Linked DNA regions of Homo sapiens: region 2 is linked to region 1. Evidence: fine-mapped expression QTL. Tissue or cell type: whole blood. Region 1 holds a variant in brackets; the other region holds the start of a gene. All regions are shown on one strand. Distances are between the middles of the regions.

Region 1 (8,102 bases):
AGGCTCAGAGTTCGAGACCAGCTTGGGCAATATAGCAAGACCCTGTCCACAAATGAAAAAAAAAAATTAGCCAGGTGTGATGGCGCACACCTGTAGTGCCAGCTACTCAGGAGGCTGAAGCAGGAAGATCCCTTGAGACCAGCAGTTCAAGGCTGTGGTGAGCTATGATGGCACCACTGCATTCCAGCCTGGGCAACAGAATAAGACCATCTCAAAAAAAAAATAAAAAAAAAATTTTAAGCGGCTTAAACAATAAAGCCTTTATTACCACATAGTCCAGAGCAGTATGAGACAGTCCATGCTAGGGCATGACAAATACCATGTGTAATGTCAACCATTTCCATGAAAATGGTAAACCTTCCCAGGAAGCCCCCAGCAGATACCAGCTCAGCTCCTCCGGCCAGAGGTGGGTCATGTCCACAGCTAAACCAGTCAAGGGTAGGGAATGAGGCCTGTTTTGGGCTCCACTATTAACGATTCTCTACTGTTTAGAGCAAGGAGCACAAGGTCTGCTGTCCCACTTGCTGTAGGGACCTTATGGGGTGGATAGAGGTGGATGGCGGTGGATAAACTCAGTGATGTGACACTGCCAACAGCCCCAGGCAAGTCAGAGTGCAATGTGGCTCCCGAAAGCGTCCCACACACCAGGCACACACGGGAACTCTCCCTGGGGTGGGTGTTGGGATGTGCAAGGTTTAGCTTCTTTCGGATGGCACTCTCACGGCCACTCTCCTTAACCTCCTTTCTGGAATAAGACCTTTCCTGATGAACACGGTGCTAGCAGCTAACGACCTTCCCATGTGCCCTGTCCTCCTGACGCCTTTCTGGAGTATGGACTTTCTTGTGCTGAAGGAGGGTGGAACTATGTTTGAAGGCCTTCCCACACTCTGTACATTCATAAGACCTCTCTTCAGTGTGGAACTGCTGGTGCCGATTGCGGTAGGATCTGGTAGTGAAGGTTTTCCCACACAGGCTACATTCATAGGGCCGTTCCCCAGTGTGGACTTTCCAGTGCTGATAGAGGCCTGAACGGGTCACGTAGCCTTTCCCACATTGCTTGCATTCAAAAGGCCTTTCTCCAGTGTGAACTCTCTGGTGAAGAATGAAGCTATTATTGTATTTAAAGAACTTCCCACATTCTGTACACTCATAGGGCCTTTCTCCAATGTGCACTTTCCGGTGCCGAATGAGGGTAGACAGAACACTGAAGGTTTTACCACATTTGCTGCACTCGTAAGGCCTTTCTCCAGTGTGAATCCTCTGGTGTAGAACAAGTGCGTCTTTGCGGTTGAAGGTTTTACCACAGTCACTACACTTAAAAGGTTTTATGCCTGTGTGAACCTTCTGGTGTTTCCTCAGCTTAGACGGGTAACTGAAGGCCTTCCCACATTCATTACACACATGGGCTGTTTCTCCAGTGTGAATTTTTCGGGGGTTAATATGAGCTGACTTCTTGAAAGCACTTCTGCCTGTTGGGCATCTGAAGGGTCTCTCTTCAGAATGCGTTATCAGATGGTCAAGGAGGGCAAAGGCCTTTAAGAACACCTTCCCACAGTCACTGCATTTGAACAGCTTCTCTGCCACATGGACTTCTTGCTGTTGCCCACAACTGGAACCAGGTGGGAAAGCTGCCCCATGCTCAGTGTGCCTTCTTGGTTTCCCCTCACTATGAGTGTCCTGGTGCTGGATGACTCTGTAGCTCTTTAGATGCTCAGGATGGGCTCTCTCATCCTCCACTCTACACAAACCATCTGAAAGCAGAGATGAATCATTACTAAGAGTTGAACTAGAGGGAGGAGGTACCTTAATCACCAGTGCATGTCAGACACACCCAGAAGGACTCCATAGAACTGCTGAAAGGGCCAGGCGTGGTGGCTCACGCCTGTAATCCCAGTGCTTTGGGAGGCCAAGGCGGGCAGATCACGTGAGGTCAGGAGTTCGAGACCAGCCTGACCAACACGACGAAACCCCATCTCTTCTAAAAATACAAAATTAGCCGGGTGTGGTGATGCATGCCTGTAATCCCAGCTACTCGGGAGGCTGAGGCAGGAGGATCACTTGAATCCAGAGGCAGAGGCTGCAGTGAGCTGAGATCGCGCCACTGCACTCCAGCCTGGGCAGTAAGAGCAAAACTCCGACTCAAAAAAAAAAAAAAAAATTAGCCAGGCATGGTGGCAGGCGCCTGTAGTCCCAGCTACTCAAGAGGCTGAGGCAGGAGAATGGCATGAACCCAGGAGGCAGAGGTTGCAGTGAGCTGAGATTGCGCCACTGCACTCCAGCCTGGGCAATAAGAGCAAAACTCCATCTTAAAAAAAAAAGAATTGCTGAGAGGTTGCTAGGAAAGGTCTGGGTTGGGAAAGCCTGGCACAACTGAATATGGCTCCACCAGACTACAGACTAAGGAAAACCTCAACTGAGATGAGGGCACAAGATAGGATATGGTGCAGGGAAGAGAGGTGGGGTCTCCAAGTCACTCCTCTGCAAAGGGTTTCAGCAGGGCCTTGGCTGCTGGTGACAGCCAAGCACTATGAGGAGGCATGTGTCTAGTCCCAGCAAAATGTGATTCCAAAATAGTAGCTGGTGTTTAAGTATTAATTAAGGATTGGCTGAAGTTCAAATACCTGTTTAAGGATATGTGCACATTTCAAGACACGCACTGAGTCGCCAACAGTAGACAGCTCTGCACAGATACAGAGAAGGGCAATGAGGAGACGCAGGCCAGAGAGGCAGGAACATGCGGGGCCTGAAAATCATGGTAGAGATGGCAGACTGCACAGTGTCCACATAAGACAGGAAAGGTGGAAGGAAATAAGGTATGGTCACTGCCCTCAACACCAAGGTATCGGTGTATGCAGGTACTCAGCATTCTGTGAGCCCACTGCTGAAACCAAGGTATTCCCCTCCACTCCACTTACCAAGACCAAAACCTCTCCTGGCTTCTGCTCTGCTGACTGGAGTCACATCCACCCAGCTGGGCACCCACGACTGTTCATCATCCTCCAGCTGGGTAAACACAGGGGATCTCGAAGGTGCAAGTCCTGCGGGTGACAGGTAGTAAAAGAAACAGGCTGGGCATGGTGGCTGATGCCTGTAATCCCAGCACTTTGGAAAGTGAGGTAGGAGATCACTTAAACCCAGACGTTCGCAACCAGCCTGGGCAACACAGTAAGACCCCAACTCTACAAAAAATATATTATTTTAATTAGCCAGGCATGATGGCATGCACCACCTGTAGTCCCAGTTACTAGGGAGGCCATAGTGAGAGGATCACTTGAGCCTAGGAGGTCAAAGCGTCAGTGAGTCACGATCACACCATTGGACTCTAGCCTGGGCAACAGAGTGAGACCCTGTCTCAAAAACAAACAAACAGGCCGGGCGCAGTGGCTCACGCCTGTAATCCCAGCACTTTGGGAGGCCAAGGTGGGCGGATCACGAGGTCAGGAG[A/G]TCAAGACTATCCTGGCTAACACGGTGAAACCCCCCTTCTACTAAAAATACAAAAAAATCAGGCGGATGTGGTGACGGGCACCTGTAGTCCCAGCTACTCGGGAGGCTTAGGCAGGAGAATGGCATGAACCTGGGAGGCAGAGCTTGCAGTGAGCTGAGATCACACCACTGCACTCCAGCCTGGGCGACAGTGCGAGACTCTGTCTCAAAAACACAAACAAACAAACAAAAAGAAAAAAAAAAGCCTTTCTATGAAGCAAAACTGACATAACTGAAGAAACAGACTGTTCAGCAATAATAACGATTGTAATTTCCCACCATCAATAACAACAGCAGACTTGAACAACAATGAAAACCAACTAGTCCTAACAGACATCTATAGAGCTTGCCACCTAACAACAGCAGGATATACATTGTCACGTGCACATGGAACGGTCTTCAGAACATACCATTTGCTAGGATATAAAATAAGCCTCGGCTGGGCGCGGTGGCTCATGCCTGTAATCCCAGCACTTTGGGAGGCCGAGACGGGCAGATCATGAGGTCAGGAGATCAAGACCATCCTGGCTAACACAGTGAAACCCCATCTCTACTAAAAATACAAAAAAAAAATTACCCGGGCATGGTGGCAGGCGCCTGTAGTCCCAGCTACTCAGGAGGCTGAGGCAGGAGAATGGCGTGAACCCAGGAGGCAGAGCTTGCAGTGAGCTGAGATCGCGCCACTGCACTCCAGCCTGGGCGACAGAGCAAGACTCTGTCTCAAAATAAATAAATAAATAAATAAAGCAAGCCTCAGTAGATTTCAAAGGATTGAAATAATGTCAAGTATGTTCTCTGTCCACAAATGAATTAAAACAGAAATCAACAACAGAAAGAAATTTAGGAAACTCACAAATTTAAGGAATTTAAACAAAACATTCCTAAAAATCCAGAGTCAAAGAAAAAATAAATCACATGACAATTACAAGTACTTTGGGAGGAATGAAAATAAAAACACAGGGCTGGGTGTGGTGGCTCAAGTGTAATCCCAGCACTTTGGGAGGCCGAGGCAGGTGGATCACAAGGTCAGGAGTTTGAGACCATCCTGCCGAACACAGTGAAGCCCCGTCTCTACTAAAAATACAAAAAAAAATTAGCCAGGCGTGGTGGTGGGCGCCTGTAATCCCAGATACTCGGGAGGCTGAGGCAGGAGAATGGCATGAATCCAGGAGGCGGAGCTTGCAGTGAGCCGAGATAGTGCCACTGCACTCCAGCCTGGGTGACAGAGCAAGACTCCATCTCAAAAAAAGAAAAAAAGAAAAGAAAAGAAAAATACAACAGGCCGGGTGGTGGCTCACGCCTGTAATCCCAGCACTTTGGTAGGCTGAGGTGGGTGGATCACCTGTGGTCTGGAGTTCAAGACCAGCCTGGCCAACATGGCGAAACCCTGTCTCTACCAAAAAAAAAAAATACAAAAATTAGCCAGGTGTGGTGGACCATGCCACTCGGGAGGCTGAGGCAGGAGAATCGCTTGAACTTGGGGGGCGGAGGTTGCAGTGAGCCAAGATCGCACCACTGCACTCCAGCCTGGGAGGCATCAGACTCCACCTCAAAAAAAAAAAAAAATTAGCCAGGCATGGTGGCACATGCCTGTAATCCCAGCGACTTGGGAGGCTGAGGCAGCAGAATTGCTTGAACCCAGGAGGTGGAGATTGCATTGAGCCGAGATCGCACCATTGCATTCCAGCGTGGGCAACAGGACTCCATCTCAAAAAGAAAAATTAAAAAAAAAGAAAAAGAAAAAGAAAAAAATACCACAACAAACAAAAAATTATGGGATGCAGAAAATGCAGAGCTTAGCAGGAACATTATGGCTATAAATACCCATATTTTAAAAGATCTCAAACCAATAACCTAACTTTATACCTCAAGGAACAAGAAAAAGAAAAACAAACCCAAAGATAGCAAAAGGAGGGAAATAATAAAAATTAGAGCAGAAACGAATGAAACAGATTAGAAAAAGAGAACCGACAAACCAAAATTTGGTTCTTTGAAAAAATCAACAAAATTGGCAAATGTTTACCTAGAGTGACAAAAAACAGAGAGAAGACTCAATACTACTTTGAACAGGAATGGAAAAAGGACATCACTAGTAACCTTATAAAAATTAAAAAATAATGAAATACTATGTACAAATGTATGCCAACAAATTGGATAACTTAGATGAAATGGACAAATTCCCAAGTAGACACAAACTATCAAAACTGAGTCAAGAAGAAACAGAAAATCTAAATACAAATGTAACAAAGAGGGTTTTCTTGTTGTTATTAAAAAACATTCCCCCCAAAACACACACAACCCCAAGCCCTGATGGCTTCAAAGGTGAATACTAACAATACTGAAATAAGAATTAACACCAATACTTAAGAAACTCTTCCAGAAAACAGAAGAGAAGGAAACATTCCCAACTCATCCATTGAGGCCAAAATTACCCTCATACTCAATACAGAGACATTATAAGAAAACTACACCACTGGCTGGGTGTGGTGGCTCACACCTGTAATCTCAGCACTTTGGAGGCCGAGATGGGTGGATCACCTGAGGTCGGGAGTTCAAGACCACCCTGGCCAGGCCGGGCGTGGTGGCTCACGCCTGTAATCCCAGCACTTTGGGAGGCCGAGGCGAGTGGATCATGAGGTCAGGAGATTGAGACCATCCTGGCTAACAAGGTGAAACCCCGTCTCTACTAAAAATACAAAAAATTAGCCGGGCGCGGTGGCGGGCGCCTGTAGTCCCAGCTACTCGGGAGGCTGAGGCAGGAGAATGGCGTGAACCCGGGAAGCGGAGCTTGCAGTGAGTCGAGATTGCGCCACTGCAGTCCGCAGTCCGGCCTGGGCGACAGAGCGAGACTCCGTCTCAAAAAAAAAAAAAAAAAAAAAGACCACCCTGGCCAACATGGTGAAACCCCTGTCTCTACTAAAAATAAAAAAATTAGCCAGGCATAGTGGTGCATGCCTGTAACCCAGCTACTCAGGAGGCGGGGGCAGGAGAATCACTTGAACCCAAGAGGTGGAGGTTGCAATGAGCCGAGATCATGCCACTGAACTCCAGCCTGGGCGACAGAGTAAGACTCTGTCTAAAAAAAAAAAAAAAAAAAAAAACAAGTATTATAAGCCATGACAGGGAATTTATCCCAGTAATGCAAGGTTGAACATATGAAAATCAACAATTAGTGTTGGGAGGCCGACGGGGGCAGATCACGAGGTCAAGAGATCAAGACCATCCTTGCAAACATGGTGAAACCCCATCTCTACGAAAAATACAAAAATTAGCTGGGCGTGGTGGTGCACGCCTATAGTCCCAGCTACTTGGGAGGCTGAGGCAGGAAAATCACTTGAACCCGGGAGGTGGAGGTTGCAGTGAGCCGAGATCGCGCCACTGCACTCCAGCCTGGCGACAGAACAAGACTCCGTCTCAAAAAAAGAAAAGGCAATCAATTATTCTAATATACTACATTAACAGAAGAGAGGACAAAAATCACATGATCATTTCATTAGACATTGGAAAAGCATTTGACAAAATCTAGTGACCTTTCTTTTCTTTTTTTTTTTTGAGACGTAGTTTCACTCTTGTTGCCCAGGCTGGAGTGCAATGGTGCGATCTCAGCTCACTGCAACCTCCACCTCCCAGGTTCAAGCGATTCTCCTGCCTCAGCTTCCCTAGTAGCTGGGATTACAGGCATGTGCCACCACACCTGGCTAGTTTTCTATTTTTAGTAGAGATGGGGTTTCACCATGTTGACCACGCTGGTCTTGAACTCCTGACCTCAGGTAATCCACCTGCCTCGCCCTCCCAAAATGCTGAAATTACAGGCATGAGCCACTGCACCTGGCCATGACTTTTCTTAATAAACACATTAAATGAACTAGAAAGAGAAGGGAACTTCCTCACCTGAAATGGGCATCTGCAAAAAACCAACAGCTAACACCATACTTAACAGTGAAGAATAAAGTACTTAGGAATAAATTTAACGAAAGAAGTACCTTTGTGGCCAGGCGCAGTGGCTCACGCCTGTAATCCCAGCACTTTGAGAGGCCAAGGCAGGCAGATCATGAGGTCCGGAGTTCAAGACCAGCCTGGCCAACAAAGTGAAACCCTGTCTCTACTAAAAATACAAAAATTAGCCAGGCATGGTGGCGCGAGCCTGTAGTCCCAGCTACTCGGGAGACTGAGGCAGGAGAATCGCTTGAACCCTGGAGGCAGAGGTTGTGGTGAGCCGAGATTGCGCCACTGCACTCCAGCCTGGGCAACAGAGTGAGGCTCTGTCTCAAAAAAAAAAAAAAAAAAAAAAAAAAAAAAATTATATATATATATACATATATATATATATATACACACATATATATATATACATATATATATACACATATATACATATATATATACATATATACATATATATACACATATATACATATATACACATATATACACATATATATACACATATATACACATATATACACATATATATACATATATATACATATATATACATATATATACATATATATATACACATATATATATATATATATATATATATATATATATATATATTTCCCAAACCGTTCTGATTAAAATTCATGGCTCAAGCCTGGCCCAGGGAGGTCCCTGTA
Region 2 (8,102 bases), 26 kb before region 1:
CTTCATTAGGGTATGACCATTTTGATACAGAGGAGAGTTTTGCAAAATTTTGCTCATGGCTGGACCACACTCCTTGCGCTTATGGGGACTTTCTCTGGGGTGAACATATTGGTGCTCAAAGGAGGTAGAGTTCTGGCTGGAGGATTCCCCATGTTACTATACTTGTAAGGGCCTTTGAAGATGTGCATGTACTCCTGCTTTCTCAGGATGAAGACAAAAGTGAAGGCCTTCCCATGCTCATAATACACTTGCAATTTTTTCCACTGTGAAGTTTTTTGGTAGGAGAAAAGGCTTGCTTCCCCTCAAACACCTTTCCATATGCTGTGTATTTATCAGCTATCTCTTCAGTGTCAGTTCTCTGTAGGTTCTGCAAAATGTGGAGCTGCAGGGCCCTAGTGTCTGGTGACAGGTCAGTACCATGCAGTGAGCGAAGTCCAGGTCTTGAACCATTGACACCTATGCCCATACTCCTCAAATGGAACAAGCCAGTCTCACGGAAGAAGAGGTTTTCAAAAACTATTTAGGTATCTATGTATTTATTTATTTATTTTAGAGATAGGATCTCGTTATGTTGCCCAAGCTGGACTCAAACTCCTGGTCTCAAGCGCTCCTCCTGCCTCAGCATCCCAAGTAGTTGGGACTGTAGTTATGAGCCACCATGTGCAGATAACAACTATTTAAAGATACATTATCCGTTCAAGACACATTAAAGGGAGGCCAATGGTAGAAGACCTGGCCACTGGAGGGGAGGACGGGAGAAGGGGAAAGAGTGAATCTTGGAAGACAGAGAGGAAGCCATCCAGGGAACAGGAGTCAGGGCAAAGTAGGATAGAGTGTCAGAAGAAGGTCAGGAAAATTTTTTTTAAAAGGCACAGCTATACATCCTGGTGCCAGGACAACAGAGGGCACAACTCAGGTACCAGGTGAGCCACCAGGGCACTGCCAACAGCTCTGCCACAGCTGTCTTCCACTCAACAGAACTGGTGCACCATGGGGCCTCTCTGTCCATGGCCTAATTCAAGCCACCCTGTCCACCAGCCAGGTCTCTTCATTTGTTCTAGTTAGGTGATCACATGGCGGGGGTGGTGGCAGTGATCCTATACAGCTCTCATCAAGTGGTTTGTGAGAAGGCAGCCCACGTCAAGGTGATCCACCCCATGACAAATCACCGTAGGTGAAGATCACCTATGCAGGTATATAGCTGGAAAGAACTGAACTTCACAAAGTCAATGCTCAGTGACCCCACAATCAATGACCATGTCAGTGCCCACTGGGACTCACAAGGGACAGCTGGCAGAAAACTCCTACTAGAGTGAGGGAATGTGGCAGAAAGGACAGAAAAGTCACAGATCCTGACAGGGTAACCTAGCCAGGAAACGACCCAGCTGCATGTGATATGCTACACAGGTTTTGAGACTTCCGATTCCAGGTGGGCATTGAGGGGTGAGATTTCCGGCACCGCCATGATGGTCCTCATTTTGTGGCTTGTGGGTTGGGCTACAGGAGGCCTCTAGAGCTGGACAAGGGCGTGGGAGTGGGTGCAGGGACCATCACTGTGGCTTCACAAGGTTGTCAAGATCCCAGGGAAGGTGTGGGGGTTGTTTATGCAGCAGCCAGGGATAAGTAGCAGTGAAAAGTGAAGCCGGCTGGGCTTCTGGGTCCAGTGGGGACTTGGGGAACTTTTCTGTCCGGCTAAAGGACTGCCAACACACCAATCAGCGCTCTGTGTCTAGCTAAAGGTTTGTAAACGCACCAATCAGCACTCTGTAAAAATGCACCAATCAGCGCTCTGTGTCTCCCTAAAGGTTAGTAAACGCACCAATCAGCGCTCTGTGTCTAGCTAATTGGCTGGGGACTTGGAAAACTTTTCTGTCTAGCTAAAGGATTGTAAATGCACCAATCAGCACTCTGTGTCTAGCTATAGGTTTGTAAACTCACCAATCAGCACTCTGTAAAAATGGACCAATCAGTGCTCTGTAAAATGGACCAATCAGTGCTCTGTAAAATGGACCAATCAGTGCTCTGTATAATGGACCAATCAGCAGGATGTGGGCAGGGCCAAATAGAATAAAAGCTGGCCACCCAAGCCAGCAGCGGCAACCCGCGGGTCCTCTTCCATGCTGTAGAAGCTTTATTCTTTTGCTCTTCGCAATAAATCTTGCTGCTGCTCACTCTTTGGGTCCACACTACCTTTATGAGCTATAACACTCACCACAAAGGTCTGCAGCTTCACTCCTGAAGCCAGCGAGACCACAAACCCACTGGGAGGAACAAACAACATTGGACACGCCACCTTTACGAGCTGTAACACTCATTGCAAAGGTCTGCAGCTTCACTCCTGAGGTCAGCGAGACCACGAACCCACCAGGAGGAATGAACAACTCTGGATGTGCCACCTTTAAGAGCTGTAACACTCACTGCGAAGGTCTGCAGCTTCACTCCTGAAGTCAGCAAGACCACGAACCCACCAGAAGGAAAAAACTCCAGACACATCTGAACATCTGAAGGAACAAACTCCGGACACACCATCTTTAAGAACTGTAACAGGGCCGGGCGCGGTGGCTCACGCCTGTAATCCCAGCACTTTGGGAGGCCGAGGCGGGTGGATCATGAGGTCAGGAGATCGAGACCATCCTGGCTAACAAGGTGAAACCCCGTCTCTACTAAAAATACAAAAAAAAAAAATTAGCCGGGTGCGGTGGCGGGCGCCTGTAGTCCCAGCTGCTCGGGAGGCTGAGGCAGGAGAATGGCGTGAACCCGGGAAGCGGAGCTTGCAGTGAGCCGAGATTGCGCCACTGCAGTCCGCAGTCCGGCCTGGGCGACAGAGCGAGACTCCGTCTCAAAAAAAAAAAAAAAAAAGAACTGTAACACTCAACACGAGGGTCCGCGGCTTTATTCTTGAAGTCAGCGAGACCAAGAACCCAGAGGAAGGAAACAATTCCGGACACAGCAGGACACTGGCCAGTGCCAGGGCCAGCAGCACCTCCCAGAGGGAACAATGGAAAGGCGGAGGAAAACCTAGATTTCATGTGTAGGGGAAAGAGGAGACACAGTAGCCTTACCTAGTGGGCACTGGAGTACAAAGCTCTGTAGTATCATGTCACTGTAGAAGCCCCCTTGGACCTCACTAAGGAGCCCCACATTCTTGGAAGATGTACTGACCCTGTCCTCAAAGGTCATTAAGCCCTGCAACACCAAGCCAATGGGCAGACAGATGTGATCTAAGCACTGAGCGTGAGCCCTAGCCACTGGTCCTCCAACCTAAAACCCTCCTTCCCAAATCCTATCCTCAGGCCGTTCACTGGGCCAGGCCACCAACATAATGCAGTCTGGACGTCCTGAAGCCACACCAGAATTCTATATATCCAGAGGCCCATTTGACACCTCCACTCACAGGTCTCCAGACAATTCAGACTCTATACCTACAAAATCCATCGCTAATCTTCCATGAAACATCCTCCTCCTGCCAACTGCCAACCTCTATTCTCCACAGGAGGCATCCTAATTCTTCCTAACTACTTGGGATGGTCCTTCACCCCTACTCATGCTTATTCCACTTATCTAAGGTAGCAAAAAATTCCATTAGCTCTATCTTGAAGATCCACTGGGAATCTGATCACTTCTCCCATCCTTCTTGCTTCCGTTCTGGACAGGCCACTATCATAACTGTCTGGAACAATACTGCAATAACCTCCCCCACAGTCTCCCTGCTTCCAGCCCCACTACAACCACCTTCTCCAGTAGTGTGTTCATTCAGCAACCACTGAAATACTTTCCAAATTCTAACTCAGGTCATGTCCATCCCTTTTCTGTTCAACACCTTTCATGGCTCCCAGGCGCCCTCGGTGTGCCAGGAGAGGCAGGACTCCTCTTACGCTCTCCACTCGCTGCCAAGGGGGCATGAGAGCCTGCCTGAACGCTCAGGTCAGGGTCAAGTCCAAGTCTTCGCATATGCAGATCCCTCCTCCTGTACCCTCCACGTCTCAACAAACTGGATTCTGAAATGGTGACCCCCAACCTGTGAACGCTCCACACTGTTCAGTGGGGCCCGCAGAGGACCTGGGGCAGATACTTCTCAATCGGAGACTTAGGACAATGGTGCTGAGTCCAGCGGAGTGGGTGCCAGGAGACCTTTGGCGCACGTTCCATGCCTACAGCCGGGCGCACACTGGGTCAAGACCTCCCAATGCGTAGCTTTTCTTGGCCTCGGCCTCGCGCTCCCTAAAGCCAACATAACGCCAAGGGCGACGACTCCCGAGAGCCGCGGACACCTCCGCGCGGTGCAACCTGAGGGTCCCACTGGGCCGGCTTTATCTAAGGCACAGGGTGGGGAAGGGGGGTGCGGTGTTGTGGGGGGCGAACACTGGGCTCAGGGGCGATATTCGCCGCGGTGGGGGCGCTTGTATGTCAAGAAGGCGGAACTTCCCCGACTCTCGTGCCTTCCTCGCTCCTGTTTCCATGGGCCCAGGGAGCCTCCAAGATTCCGTCCCTCGCCTGACAACGCGGTCCCTTCAGAAGCAGACAAAATCGAGAAATGCCAAAGTGATGGTCCGAGGACGACGACGGAAGTCCCGCTGCCAGGCTGTGATTGGCCAGCGTCTTACACTCCGCCCGGAAGTGCCTGTCTCCTCGGCTGCCAATGGCCAGCCCTGAGGCACCGCGAGGGTCCTTCTGGATAATGTAGTTTGCGTTGCCTGAGCAGCGACGCAATAAACGCCATTCCTCAATCACCTTGGCAACGACCTAGCAGTAGCGTGACGGGCATAGGGAAATAGCGTCATAGACGGCGGGGATCCTTGAGCCAATGAAAGCTCGGACCAGTGGCAAGTCCGAGCTGTCATTGAGAGGCGGGACTTCCGGCGCCGCCATTGCGGTCCTCATTTTGCTGCTGGTGGGTTGGGCTACAGCAGGCCTCTGGAGCCACACCAGGGCACGGGAGTGGGTGCAGGGACCGTCACCGCGCCTTCACACGCACCATAGTGCCCGGCTAATTACTCTGCTTTTATGAGCCAAGGTGTTCCCGAAAGTGGAGCCAGCGCCACGCGTCTCCAGGGTCTCCATACCCAGCCTTCGTCCCTGCGGTGCCCAGAGGCCTTGCGCGCATTTTGCATTTGGGAAGACAGGTCCTGAGTGCGACCGTCACCCAGCGGAAGTGTGAGGGTTCGGCCCAGCGGCAGGGCTAGCCCTGGGCCTCCTGTTATGGCCCTGCCCAGCCCACAGGTTCTAATGGGGTTGCCAGCGTTGCTGATGGGCCCGGCGCAGGTAAGTGGAGTGTGCCCCAGGCCCTCACCCGCTGGGATTCCGGCCCTCAGGATCCTGAAGCCCAGATAGAGGGGATGTTGGTGTCCTGGGACTCTTGATCGTGTCCTGTCCTCACACGTGGGTCCTGGGCCCTGCCCTGGGAGTCACTTACCCTTACCATCCTGAATCCAGGCAAGGGGTTATATCGAGGGATTCCCATTTCTGGAATCCTGTGGAATGAGATCTGGAAGGCTGTCCCAGGGACAGTGACCAGCATGTGTACCTTGTTTAGTGGTGATGAAATGGAAGCATTCTGGGGACTGCCGGTCTCCATTTAGTCTGGTGGAAACAGGGAAGGGAAACCAATAGTTAGGCCTGGAATGGCAGCCTGAGGAGCTGGACCTCTATTCTGATGGTGGTGGGAGCCATGGAAGGTTTGGAGTAGAGGAAGTAGGTGCTCTGACTCCAGTCTTAACAGACGCCCTATGGATGCCTAGTGGGCAGCAGACTGGAGGGATGGTGATGGTGGAGCAGGAAGGCCAGTGAGGAGCTGACAGATGTGGTCCAGATGTGTGCTTTGGGTAGCTGGACAGAGGGGTGCCCGTGGAGGTAGGACAGATGGTTGGCTTCTGAATCTGCCCAAACTGGGCCATGGATTACCTGATGTGGGACAGTGAAAGAAAGTGAAATGTTAAGATTGACCTAAGGCTGAGTGCAGTGGCTCACACTTGTAATCCCAGCACTTTGGGAGGCCAAGGCGGCCAGATCACTTGAGGTCAGGAGTTCAAGACCAGCCTGGCCAACGTGGCGAAACCCCACCTCTACTAAAAATACAGAAAAATTAGCCAGGACATGGTAGTGTGCACCTGTAATCCCAGCAACTTGGGAAACTGAGGCAGAAGAACTGTTTGAATCTGGGAGATGGAGGTTGCATTGAGCTGAGATCGTGCCACTGCGCTCCAGCCTGAGTGACAGAGCGAGACTCTGTCTTAAAAAAAAAAAAAAATTGCCGGGCGTGGTGGCTCACGCCTGTAATCCCAGCACTTTGGGAGGCCGAGGCAGGTGGATCACTAGGTCAGGAGATTGAGACCATCCTGGCTAACACGGTGAAACCCCATCTCTACTAAAAATACAAAAAATTAGTCAGGCGTGGTGGTGGGTGCCTGTAGTCCCAGCTACTCGGGAGGCTGAGGCAGGAGAATGGCTTGAACCCGGGAGGCGGAGCTTGCAGTGAGCCAAGATCGCGCCACTGCACTCCAACCTGGGTGACAGAGCGAGACTCTGTCTCAAAAAAAAAAAAAAAAAAATTGACCTTAGATCTTTCAGATGTGGAAGTTGGTGTGAGGAGTAGATTTCAGGGGGAAGATAAAGAGTTGGATTTTGGCCATGTTGTATTTGAGATGTCCCAGACACTACCAAATTGAGGTGCCAAGTAGACCACTAAACATGTGATTATGAAATTATGTCGGGTTTAGGCTGGAAACATCCAAGGGATGGATGCTTGTGTGTGGACACTGCATGCAGTTGTGGGTTGGGTTCAAGATAGTGGCTGAGCCTCCTGAGCAGAGAGTAGGTCTAGGACAACAGTGAAGCATAGCGGCAAAAGTAGGATGAGAGTTGGGCTTTGGTTTAGGTTGATTTGCTTCTCTACAGCTCACTACATTGTTGCGGCCATCCTTCTTGTGGTCAGGGCATGTTATCTCTTCTTAAATAGGGTCCTGGGGTTTTTGTCAGGCTGGTGGAGTGGCAAGATCAGAAAGGGTCAGCCTAAGCTGAGTCCCCAAGCCAAGGTGGGGGCCAGTGGATCTTGGATTTGAGTGTTAGGAAGAGCAAGGACAGCTATGACTGGGGAGGAGACAACACATACAAAGGCAAAGATATCAGAGGGAAGAGATATTTGAGATCTGCTTATGGTTCTGGGCAGCTGATGGTTGAAGGAACAGGGCTGGCAGGGGAGGCATTGACTTGAGGGGCTATGACTGCCTCTTGCAGTGGGGTTTTTGGAGCTCTGTAGCTGGCTTGGACCAGGAATGGATCCCGGTTGCATCTGTCAGGTATGCCATGTGCATGGTGAGATGCTAGGGAGAATGCCTACAGTGTGAACAGGGAGGGGTTGGAAATATAAGAACTGTATGGTCTGAGGAGTGACATGTAAAGGTGAGAGAATGTGAACCATTGGGCCCATGGCCCTGGTACAAGAGGCTTAAGAAAGGGAAGCCCAAATTTTCTTATGTTTGGGAGGTATGAGCCAGAAGACACAAGGAAAATTGGCCAGCAGGAGGGAGGAGGAAGCATCCATCTGCCCACCTGCCTATTGTTCCTCTAGGTTGGGTTGGCCTGGATACAGTGACCAGTGGGACTACTAGGAGAGAGGGGCACCATTAATTCCAGGGCATGTTAGGTGGGGGCCCTGAGGAAGAAGATAAGCTGTGGATGGGTGAGTAGTGGGTGGACTGAGAGGATCATAAGAAAAAGAGATATTAGTGGTAGATGTATCAGGATTCTGAGTCACACAGCAAGGTCCTGCATATTTCCATTTGACCAATTGTTTGTTTCTTTGTCAGCATACTTCTTGGCCCTGTGGCTCAGCTGTCCCCACATTGAAGAGCATGGTAACCTTTGAAGATGTGGCTGTATACTTCTCCCAAGAGGAGTGGGAGCTCCTTGATGCAGCCCAGAGGCACCTGTACCACAGTGTGATGCTGGAAAACCTTGAGCTTGTGACCTCACTTGGTAATGCCCTGTCTCAGCATGGTGATGACTACCTTATGCCTTGTGTCTTTTCCCCATAGAAAGCTCTGTTCATCCCAAAGCCAGATCATGGGTACTGCTTCCTTCTCGGGTTTCCTGTTGTAGGTGCT

Evidence for each region. PIP is the estimated chance that this variant, and not a neighbour inherited with it, causes the effect.
Region 2: ZNF132 starts here. The variant in region 1 is fine-mapped to the expression of ZNF132 in whole blood (TOPMed, PIP 0.96).

What each region holds. Positions count from the first base shown.
Region 1 is chr19:58,410,460-58,418,561 of GRCh38, reverse strand. It overlaps ZNF584 (zinc finger protein 584), which reads right to left. Exons shown (of 4, transcript NM_173548.3): 3 at 2,916-3,038; 4 at 235-1,751. The coding sequence ends at 778. It also overlaps a transcript of ZNF324B not described here. Among named protein-coding and RNA genes, the nearest start is that of ZNF584, 5.9 kb to the right of the region's middle. The variant A/G (reference allele first, on the strand shown) is at 3,445.
Region 2 is chr19:58,436,919-58,445,020 of GRCh38, reverse strand. ZNF132 (zinc finger protein 132) reads left to right here and starts at 4,868. Exons shown (of 3, transcript NM_003433.4): 1 at 4,868-5,262; 2 at 7,806-7,974. The coding sequence starts at 5,200. It overlaps ZNF132-DT (ZNF132 divergent transcript), which reads right to left and starts at 4,573. Exons shown (of 1, transcript NR_186311.1): 1 at 520-4,573. It also overlaps a transcript of ZNF324B not described here and the pseudogene LOC100419848. RefSeq lists enhancers at 3,671-4,180, 4,330-4,459, 4,692-5,202.